Regions from separate parts of the Homo sapiens genome. Here region 2 is linked to region 1. Evidence: fine-mapped expression QTL. Tissue or cell type: whole blood. Region 1 holds a variant in brackets; the other region holds the start of a gene. All regions are shown on one strand. Distances are between the middles of the regions. Region 1 has its middle 50 kb from the start of MIR4446. Region 2 holds the start of SIDT1 (SID1 transmembrane family member 1).

Region 1 (5,386 bases):
GTACTTCAAAAGTATTGTTATATTCTATTGCACTGGGTAGCAGATGCTCAGATGTTGATCTCATTTATGCCTGAAGTCTTTGTTCTATGAATGTCTAAAATATATCCTAATGTTTTAAAAGGTAAAATGGCCAGGCACGGTAGCTCACACCTGTAATCCCAGCACTTCGGGAGGCTAAGGCGGGTGGGTCACTTGAGGTCAGGGGTTCGAGATCAGCCTGTCCAACATGGTGAAACCCCATCTCTACTAAAAATACAAAAATTATTGTATTTTTACAATACAATTGGGTGTGGTGGCATATGCCTGTAATCCCAGCTACTGGGGAGACTGAGGCAGGAGAATTGCTTGAACTTGGGAGGCAGAAGTTGCAGTGAGCCAAGATTGTACCACTGCACTCCAGCCTGGGCGACAGAGCAAGACTCTGTCTCAAAACAAATAAATAAAAATAAAAGGTAAAATGAGGACCTTAGACACCACTTATTCTCACATATACTCCAGGAAATTAAAGCTCACAATATTTTCCTTGACCCGTCTTCTTGGGACTTCAGATTAAAAGTCGGTATTCTGACTGTGAAGGGCTAACTTCCTACTATTGCATACCACCTCCCATTCAGATGTTATAGATGGAAGATACATTTTGATTATACAAGAAGCCCTAATATGCCATGAAAGACATATAAATCATAAAGATGCAAACACTATGCTTAAATTTAATCTCCCTAAAAGTTATAGTGTAGTTTTTGGAATTAACAGCAATTACAAATATAAGAGAACTATCTGAACAAAATTCCAGAGAAATTCCATTTCTAGGTAAGCTGAGATCTCTGGTCTTTTTTCCCCTGGGGATGTTGGATGAGTCTGGGCTGAAAAGGCAGAGTGAAAGCACCCATAGTTTCATGAAGCTTAGGAGACAACGTCCTGCTAGAGGGAGCAGGTGTCATTCTCAAGACATTTAAAACCAGAGGCAAACTGAATCTAACTAAAGCTACATCCCAGCTCTCATACAGCTCAATACTCTCTGCCTAACAAAGGAAACATGAACCCTCTCTGGTGGAAAATACCATCCACCTTAATTTCTAACGTTCTTTTATATACAATCCCCAGAAAATACATACAATGTCTAGGAAATGTGGCCAAAAAGCAGAAAGAAAAGCGGATTGTATAAGTAGACCCACAGACAATCAAGATGCACAGACAAGGGCTTTAAAATAACTATAAAAATATGTTAAAATGGAAAAATTTTAAAATACGTTAAAAATAGAGAATTATAATTTATAAAAAACGAAATGGAACAGAAAACAGTAGTTGCTGGGGGAAGGTGGAAGGGTTGACTACAAAGAGGAACAAATTTTGGGGGGAGATGTTTTATATCTTGTGTGGTTAAAAGTCACAGAATTGTACTCTGTCAGATGGATTTTGGATGTAAGTTATACTTCAATAAACCTGACAAATAATGGAAAAAAAGAATAGAATGAACATCTAGAGCTGGAAAAGTGAAATTAGGAAATTCTTTTTTTTTTTTTTTTTTTTGAGATGGAGTCTCGCTCTGTCACCCTGGCTGGAGTGCAGTGGTGCAATCTTGGCTCACTGCAAGCTCTGCCTCTGGGGTTCATGCCATTCTCCTGCCTCAGCCTTCCGAGTAGCTGGGACTACAGGCACCCGCCACCACGCCTGGCTAATTTTTTTTGTATTTTTAGTAGAGACAGGGTTTCACCATGTTAGCCAGGATGGTCTCGATCTCCTGACCTCGTAATCCACCTGCCTCAGCCTCCCAAAGTGCTGGGGTTACAGACATGAGCCACCACACCCAGCCAGGAAATTCTTAAATAAATTTGTAGTAAAGTACACATATCAGTCAATAGGAAATCAAACCAAAGCACAGAGAAAAAAAAAGGAATAGAAAAGAGTGATCAAAATGCAAGATATGTGTGGGGCACTGTCAAAATATCCAACTTATGTATCACTAGAGCTTCAAACAGAGAGGAGAGAGAATTGGACAGAAGTAATATTTGATGGGTGAAAATGTTCAAAACTGATAAATATATTAACTATAGATTCTAGATGTTTGGTGAACCCACAAGTAGGATAAATGTAAAGAAAGTTACACCTATACATCATAAGCAGACATCTGAACTCTAAAGATAAAGGACTTTGGGAGGTCAAGGCAGGCAGATCACTTGAGGTCAGGAGTTCGAGACCAGCCTGGCCAACATGGTGAAACCCTGTCTCTACTAAAAATACAGAAATTAGCCAGGCATGGTCGTGGGCACCTGTAATCCCAGCTACTTGGCCCAGCTTGGGTGACAGAGTATGATTCCATGTCCAAAAAAGAAAAAAAAAAAAAGAAAATTTGAAAGCACCTGGGTGATAAAGATACATTGCCTACAAAGAAGCAACAATAGGACTGCTGACTTTATAACAAAAATGATGGAAGCCAGGAGACAGTGGAATGGCATCTTAAAAGTAAAGGACAAAAAAAAAAAAAAAAAACCTACTGACATGGAATTCTATAAATTATTAAAATTCCCTAAAAACTAAAAGAGAAACACATATTCATACAAACAAAAATTGAGCAATATTTTGTTTTACCAGTAGACCAGCACTACAAGAAATTTTAAAGGAAGTTATTTGGTTTGCTGGAAAATGATCCCAGATGAAAGAAGTGAAGAGGGCTTGAAAGGGTAAATTATTGGCAAATATAAAAGAATATTGAGATTTAAAACAATAACAATGTCTTGTAAGGCTTATGCAAATGCAGAAGTAAAATATATTACAATAATAAGACAAAGTGAGAGGATAAATGAAGTAAAACTGGTGTGGATATTTTATTGCTGAGAAGTTGTAGAAAATGATAATTAAAGGTAGATGGTAATAAATCAA[G/T]GTTCTGTATTATAATTTCAAAAGAATAATAAAGTAGGGCAAAACTGAAATGCTAATAGATAAGATAAAATAGAGAAGGTAAAAGGGAATAACAAAATACTGGATTATTCAATGTATTTAATCAAATAATTAAATATTTAAGGACACACTTTTAAATAAGTCAGAAAAAATGAATTAAAAGAACAAATAGAAAAATAACAGAAAAATGATGGACTTACAACCATCTAGATCAGTATATTATAGATTGAAATAGCCATTTAAAATTTTAAAAGTAGACTGAATTACAAAAATTAGAATCAACTATATGTTGTTTACAAAATGCACAAAAAACCCACCTTAATTATAAGGAAACAGATTAAAAGTAAAAGGATGGAAAAAGATATGTAAGATATGTAAATTCTAATAAAAAGAAAGCTAATATGGCTATAGTAAAATCAGATTATTATGGCCTGACTTTGCTGCTGGGTCTGCTGTTCCCACCCCTTTAAAGCTGTTGGATGTCAAACATGCTACATAAGAACCAGAGGCCACAAGTAATTCAAACGTTTATTCCTCATTCAGGACTACACAAACTTATGAAGTGTGAAGAGTCCCTGGGTGAGGTAGCCCACCACCTGAAAGAAGTCTCTCTAATGTTTGGGTAGAGTGTGGGGGAGATAAGAGGGAAGAGAGAGAGATAGAGAGAGAGAAAGAGAGAGAGAGAGAGAGAGAGAGAGACCTGTGTGATGTAGCTAAAGCATTAATCTGAGGGAAATGTATAGCTTTAAATGCCTACGTAAAAAAAGAGAATTTGAAAAAATCAGTGATTTCAGTTTCCATCTCCAGAAGCTGGAAAAATAGTAACTTAAGTCCAATGTAAGTCAAAGGAAAAGTATAATAGAGCAGAAATCAATAAAATACAAAGCAGATAGCTGACAGAGAAAATCAACAGACAAAAAGTTAATACTTAGAAAAGGCTAAAAAAGAAAAAAGAGGTCAAACGCGATGGCTCACGTCTATAATTCTAGCATGGCAAAACCCTGTCTCTACAAAAAATACAAAAATTAGTTCGGTGTGGCGGTGCACTCCTGTAGTTGCAGCTACCCAGGAGGTTGAGGTGGGAGAATCATTTGACCCTGAGCGGTGGAGATTGCAGTGAGCTGAGATTGCGCAACTGCACTCCAGCCTGGGTGACAGAATGGTACCCTGTCTCAAAAAAAGAAAAAAAAAGACCAGGAAAAAAGAAGATAAATATGAATGATCAATATCATGAATGTAAAAGAGGACATCACAAAACATTATACAGAAATTAAAAACATAAAATATTATTTACAACTTTATGCCAATAATATTGACAACTTAGAGGAAATTGACAAAATTATTGAAAAATGCAACTTATCAAAATAGATACAAGAAGAATAGAAAATCTTTATAGTCTTATACCTACTGATGAAATGGAATCTATTATTTAAAATCTTCCTACTACATATTGTAGGATTCCATTTCTATGAAAGTCTAGAATAGGCAAATCTATAGAGACAGAAAGCAGATTAGTAGGTATCTAGATACCTGGGGGCTTTGGAGGAAAATGAGGAATGACTGTTAATGGGTGTGGAATTTCTTTTGGGGGTGGTGAAAACGTTTTAAAATTAATCATGGTAATGTTGCACAACTCTGTGAATTGACTAAAAGCTGTTGAACTCTATGCTTTAAATGGGCGAATTTTATGGTGAATTATATCTCAGTAAAGTTGGTTTTTAAAAAAATCTTCCTACAATGAAAATTTCAAGCTCAAGTGATTTCAGGGGTAAATTCCTCTAACTATCAAAGGAAGAAGTACACCAATCTACTCAAATTCATAAACTAGAGAAAGAGGGAACACTTCTAAACTTGCTTTAGGAAGTTAACATGACCTCAATATCAAAATTTACATTACAGTAAAAGAAAATTATAGGCCCATATCCTGAATAAACATAAGTATGAAAATGCTAAACAAAATGTCAGCAAATTGAATCTAGTGATATAGGAAAAGAATAGTACATCATCATCATATGGTGTTTATTTCAGGAAAGCTAAGTTGTTTTAGCACTTTAAAATCAATTTTTCAACTCATTGTATTAGTAGAATAAAGGAACAAAGCATATAGTAACTCAAACAGTTAATAAAATTCAGCATCCATTTATGGCAAAAATGCTAAACAAAATTGAAAGAGAAACATTCTCAATATGATAAGGCACATCTACAAAAAAACCAAAACCAAAACCCCACAGCTGTCACACTTAATGATATCCCCCTGAAGTTAGAAACAAGACAAGAATGATAATTATTCAACATTTTAGTGGTATTCCCTGCCAGTGTATTACTAAGCAATAAAGCTACCCACCAAAAACTATAAAATGTTGCTGGGATAAATTAAAGGAGCTCAAAAGAAGCAGAAAGGGCTGGACGCAGTGGCTCATGCCTGTAATCTCAGCACTTTGGGAGGCTGAGGCGGGCAGATCACGAGGTCAGGAGATCGAGGCCATCC
Region 2 (5,386 bases), 110 kb after region 1:
TAAATGTTTTTTATAAGCCTCTCTTTTCTTTAAAAAAAAAAACATTTTGAAAAAACAGGGTATCACTCTGTCCCCAGTGGGAGTACAGTGGCAAGAGCTCAGCTCACTGCAGCCTCAAATTCCTGGGCTCAAGTGATCCTCCTGCCTCCGCCTCCTAAGTAGCTGGGACTACAGGCGCATGTGCCATCACACCCAGCTAATTTTTTAATTTTTTGTAGAGAGAGGGTCTCATTATGTTTTCCAGGCTGGTCTTGAACTCCTGGTCTCAAGCAATCCTCCCACTTTGTCCTCCAGAGTGCTGGGATTACAGGTGTGAGCCATCATGCCTGGCTTATAAACCTCTTATGTGCCATTCACTGTGCTAGGTACTGGAGGGCAGAGATGAACATGACTTTGCCCCTGCCCTCAATATCTCAAGGTTTACTAGGGAAGTCAACCAGGTGATCTCAAGTGCAAAACTCACACAGTACAAGGGGAAAATGTAAAGGCAACAATTCATAAGTAGATGCTCTATCTCTATGCAGAACTGCAAGAAATACCAAAGCCTGATGTCAGGATTTACTTAGCACATGTAATTTGAGTTTTCTTACCAATGATTTAGGGGGAAGCTGAGACTTACTCCAGAGATCATGGAGTTTTCAGACTTTTTTCTGCTCCCAGCCAATCACAGGACTAGGAACACACCTCACGTGCAACATGTCAACCAGTCGATGAGTTCTCCCACGCTAGATAGAAAGAGGCTGGGTATATGGCGTTTGGGAAACAAAAACTGCAGCCTCTCCCTTGTCTACCATGAAATGGCTCTGCATACAGCCACTCTGCTCACTACAGAACATATAACCTGAAGGTTACTGGAGGACAGAGCAGGGTGAGGGCTGTGCTGCCATGGTAACAGTGCCATAGGATTTGGTGCCACACTGGAGATGGGGCACTCAGGGCACTTTCTGGCTACACACAGCTGGAAGATGTCTAGGAGCAGTGTTAGGCACATTGGTCCCCCCTGCTCAATACAAACCACCCTCACTTTGGGAAGTGATGAGGTTTTCTAGTTCCGATCTGGAGTGAGAATCAGACGGAGGCATATCATGGTATCCCAATCATCTAGTTCTGGAATTTCCCTAGAGGGTAGGGGATGCTGGTATAGTAAGGGATACATAAACACATTTATATGGGAAGAAGATCCAGAGGTTGGTACACTGGGGAGTCTCTGTCTCTGTCTCTGTCTCTCTTTCTCTCTTTCTCTCTCTGTCTCCCTCTCTCTCCCCGCCCAGTGCTCCAGAGGTACCACACTAGAGGAAAGAAATGAACTATATGCATCTTCTTACGTTATATAATCGGAGTATATATGTCAAAGGGATAGTCACTGGAACATTTTTCCCTCCTTATCTTCCCTCAACTTTTGTCAAAAATAGGTCTAGAACTTTCACACAATTATCCATCCTTATTTAAAATCAAAACCTGGATTGATCAGCTGATGGCTGCAGTTCTCACGTCTTTGCCCAGGTCTTCTGGCGTCTCTGAAGCACAACGTGTGACAATGGCACAAAAACGCAGGAAGTGACTGTTGAATGCACAGAGGTTCTGCAGCTTCCGTCCATTTTCACACAATTTCCATTTTAGATTCTGAGCAGTTCTCCCTCCCCATGCGCTATGAAATAGAAGGGTCTGGCTGAATCAGCCACTTGAAATTAGGTTTCTTCCCTGCAGGGGATTAGGAACCGAGGTGCGGTTCTTCTTCGCACTCCACACCACACCCCGCAACCCTAGAAATCAGGACTTTCCTGGAGAAAGACCCAGCAGGGACCCAGGACCCGCAGACGGTGCGGGGAACTGGTGCCTCTGCAAAGCCCAGCAATGCCCTTGACCAGGCCAGGAGAGGCGCGAGGCGAAGCAGAGTTGTCCCCGAGGCGTGTTGAGGCAGCTAGGGCAGGGCAGCGATTGCTTCGGAGGAGAAAGGGAAAGAAAGTCCCCTGGTCCCCGAAGTCTCCCAAGGTCAATTCCCAGGGGACTCCAAAGCAGCGACGGGGCTCTGAGATCTGGCAAGTTCTAGGAGTCGAGCGAGGGGAGCGAGTGTCTTACCTGGTCGGGCTGGCTGGTGTAGTTGAAAGAGTAGATGTTCTCGGTGCTGAGGTTCACCACCCCGCTGTAGACATGATCGAAATCGGCGCCCCTGGCAGCGTCGAAGGGGTCGCGGCGCGGTGCCGGGGGCTGCCTGGGGGATTTCGCCGGGTGCCCGGGCGACGCCGCCAGCAGGAGCCAGGGCAGCGCGCAGAGCAGCGCGAGCCGCAGGCAGCCGCGCATGGTGGGCACCGCGCCCGGGCTCGAAAGCGGAGCCACCCTGGGGAGGGGGCGAGCGCAGAGAGGGTCCTTCCAAAGCCCGGTGCAGGGCCAGGCGTCCGCTTCAGAGCCGAGCGGGTGATGCCTGGCGAACCCAGCCGGCCAGGGCTGGCAGCGTGCTGACGAAGGGCCGATCAAATACTGATGCTGCCGCCTGGGGTCTCCACTGGAGGTCACGGGTGGAGAGTAGGGCGGACTGGAGAAGTGGAGATGTGGGGCTGCTGATTTTCCTCCGGCTTCTAAGTCCCCCGTTTCTCATCGCCGAGAATCCCCCCACTTACCCAGCCAGAATTTAGACCGATCTCTTCTCCCTCAACCTCAATAACAGCAATAATAAAAAGGCATTGGAGTCATTAAAAAGAAATACCCGCTAGTCTCGAAAAGTCAACCTGACGCCACATCGAGGAGGAAATTCGGTCTGTTTCAAATACGTGTGCACCCTGGCTGCAGGAGAAGAAATAGAAAGCAAAAGAGCCCGTCCCCCAAGAGGGTGCGCGAGTTCGCTTTCCCAGGCTGCTACCTGCAGAGAACTCTTGCCTGTCTGAACGATAATTACTCTCTATTCTCCCCTCTCTAATAGAACCTCTCCTCAGACACCTGTTTTATTTCTTTATTACCTCCTACTCTCCATGGAGAGTCTCACGTCATCACGTTCTCTCCCTCACCATATGTGTATGTATGTAAATATGTACAGTTAAAAAAAAAAAGATATGGTAAAGAGAACAATTTCCAGCACTGCCTGAAGTCTGGTCCCGGAAGTTGTCAAAAAACGACTCAGACTAACTAGATTTATGCAGAAGGCATTTCTTTCCACCCCAGCCTCTTACCTACTTTACCATTGCAATGACTTCTTCCAGATTCTGAGAGAAACCCCAGGATTGTTTTTTTAAAGGCAGAAACCACAGCCTATCGTAAAAAGGAAATACTTTTCTGATAAAAATTAGGGGATTAGATTTAAAGAGTTAAAGAGGCAGGTAAGGAGCAGGGTGAGAATGGGGCCATCAGAAGACCTTGCAGAACATTGAACAATCACAATTTACGTGTGGAAGAGAACTCACTGTTTTATTTCAGCTTCATTACTGTATACTATAAAAGAATGTAATTGTGTTCAACCTGAAGGACCATTTAAAAAGAAGTCATTAAGAAGGAAAAGATCTTTTTCAAAAATTTAAGATTACAGATTAAAATCCTAGTCCTTGCCATCTTTAAAGAGATAGATTTGTTTTTGTTTTTACCTTGTCTAATTCCTTTAATTTCTTAAAACATCAAGAATGAATGCAATACATTTGTTGTAAAGTTTTCTGTGAAATCAGAAAACAATGCTGATGGAAGATTAAGTTAGTAGACTCCTTATTAGGACAATTTTCAGTTTTAAAGTTTTGAATGTTCTTGGCCAGGTGCAGTGGCTCATGCCTGTAATCCCAGCACTTTGGGAGGCTGAAGTGGGAGGTGGGCTAGCTTGAGGCCATGTGTTCATGACAAGTCTGGGCAACATGATGAAACCCCATCTCTACAAAAAATACAAAAATAGCTGGGCGTGGTGGTGCATGCCTGTCGTCCTAGCTACTTGGGAGTTGAGTTGGGAGGACTGCTTGAGTCCGGGAGGTCGAGGCTGCAATGAGCCGTGAACACCCCACTGCACCCCAGCTTGGATGACAGAGCAGGACCCTATCTCAAAAGGAAGAAAGGAAGGAAGGAAGAAGGAAGGAAGAAAGGAAGGAAGGAAGGAAGGAAGGAAAGAAAGAAATTTCTTGAAAATATATGGGTATATGGGCAAAAATACTAATTCAAAGGAGAGTCTGGGGGTAAAACTTCAAATAGAACTCACTGTTTTTGAGGAGCATAACGAAATAATTTCATCCAGAATTTGAATGACTTTAAACTGTTGTATTCAAAATATCTGTGCCTCTTTTCAAAGTTCAACAACATTTCATAAACTTGAAATCTACGAAGGTCCTGGAGGTTAGCTGGTGTGACCAGTTAAAGGAGTCTCTAGGATTATGGAGTTCTATTATGGCGTTCTTTTTAAACACTATAAGAGATGAGGAACTGGTTCTTTCACAAGTCAACACCTTCTTTTGGGGGCAAGTGTCTCATTATTAGAAAGACATTTCATATTCTTAGTTGAAATCTGCCTGTCTTCTACTCACTTGTACTAGTTCTGCCCTCTGGAGTCATAGGAATAAACCTAATACTTCTTCCACATGACAGACCTGTGGGTATTTAAATGGTGCTATGACCCTTCCTTCAAGATTTTATCTCAACTTTACGCAACTAAATTGGAAGCAAATGGAACAGATCCTTCATCATAGCATGAAACCCAAAATATTTATTTTAAAGCCATTTGTATGGATTATCTATACCTAACAATTTGAGTTATATATTACAAGTCACTCTGTAATATTATCTAATCCTTATTCTAGCCAAAAGTCATTCAGTGACCTCAAGTAATTAACCTCTCAGGATCACAAGGTTGTTGTAAGGATAAAAGGGAGAATGATGTATTTGAAAGTACATTAAAAAGTTTAAAGTGTTGAATGAACAAATACTGTTATGGTGTGACTGCTAGTTCAATAGCTAAAAAATAAAATGTGGTCCATTAGGTAGGTGGTTTTTTTCTTTATTTTTAAAAGGAATTTTATTTTAAATTTTTGTGGGTACTTAGTAGGTGTATATATGTATGGAGTATATGAGATATTTTGATACAGGCATGCAATGCATAATAATCACATCATGGAAAACGAGATATCCATCACCTCAAGCATTTATCCATAATGTTACAAACAACCCAATTATACTCTTTTAGTGATTTTTAAATTTACAATTAAATTATTATTGACTATAGCCTGTTGTGCAATCAAATACTACACCTTATTCATTCCATTTTTTGGTATCCATTATCCATCCCCACCTTCCTCCCCCAGCTCTCCCACTACCCTTCCCAGCCTCTGGTAACCATCCTTCTACTCTCTTTCTCCATGAGTTCAATTGTTTTGATTTTAAAGGCAGTTTTTTTTTTTTAATATCTACAATGTCAGGATTCTACTGT

Evidence for each region. PIP is the estimated chance that this variant, and not a neighbour inherited with it, causes the effect.
Region 2: it holds the start of SIDT1, and the variant in region 1 is the best candidate, but not a certain one, in a credible set for the expression of SIDT1 in whole blood (INTERVAL, PIP 0.74).

What each region holds. Positions count from the first base shown.
Region 1 is chr3:113,642,410-113,647,795 of GRCh38, reverse strand. No RefSeq gene overlaps it. Among named protein-coding and RNA genes, the nearest start is that of MIR4446, 50 kb to the right of the region's middle. The variant G/T (reference allele first, on the strand shown) is at 2,881.
Region 2 is chr3:113,529,937-113,535,322 of GRCh38, reverse strand. SIDT1 (SID1 transmembrane family member 1) reads right to left here and starts at 2,768. Exons shown (of 25, transcript NM_017699.3): 1 at 2,080-2,768. The coding sequence starts at 2,301. RefSeq lists enhancers at 1,877-2,006, 2,477-2,806, 2,947-3,136, 3,157-3,376 and a silencer at 2,157-2,206.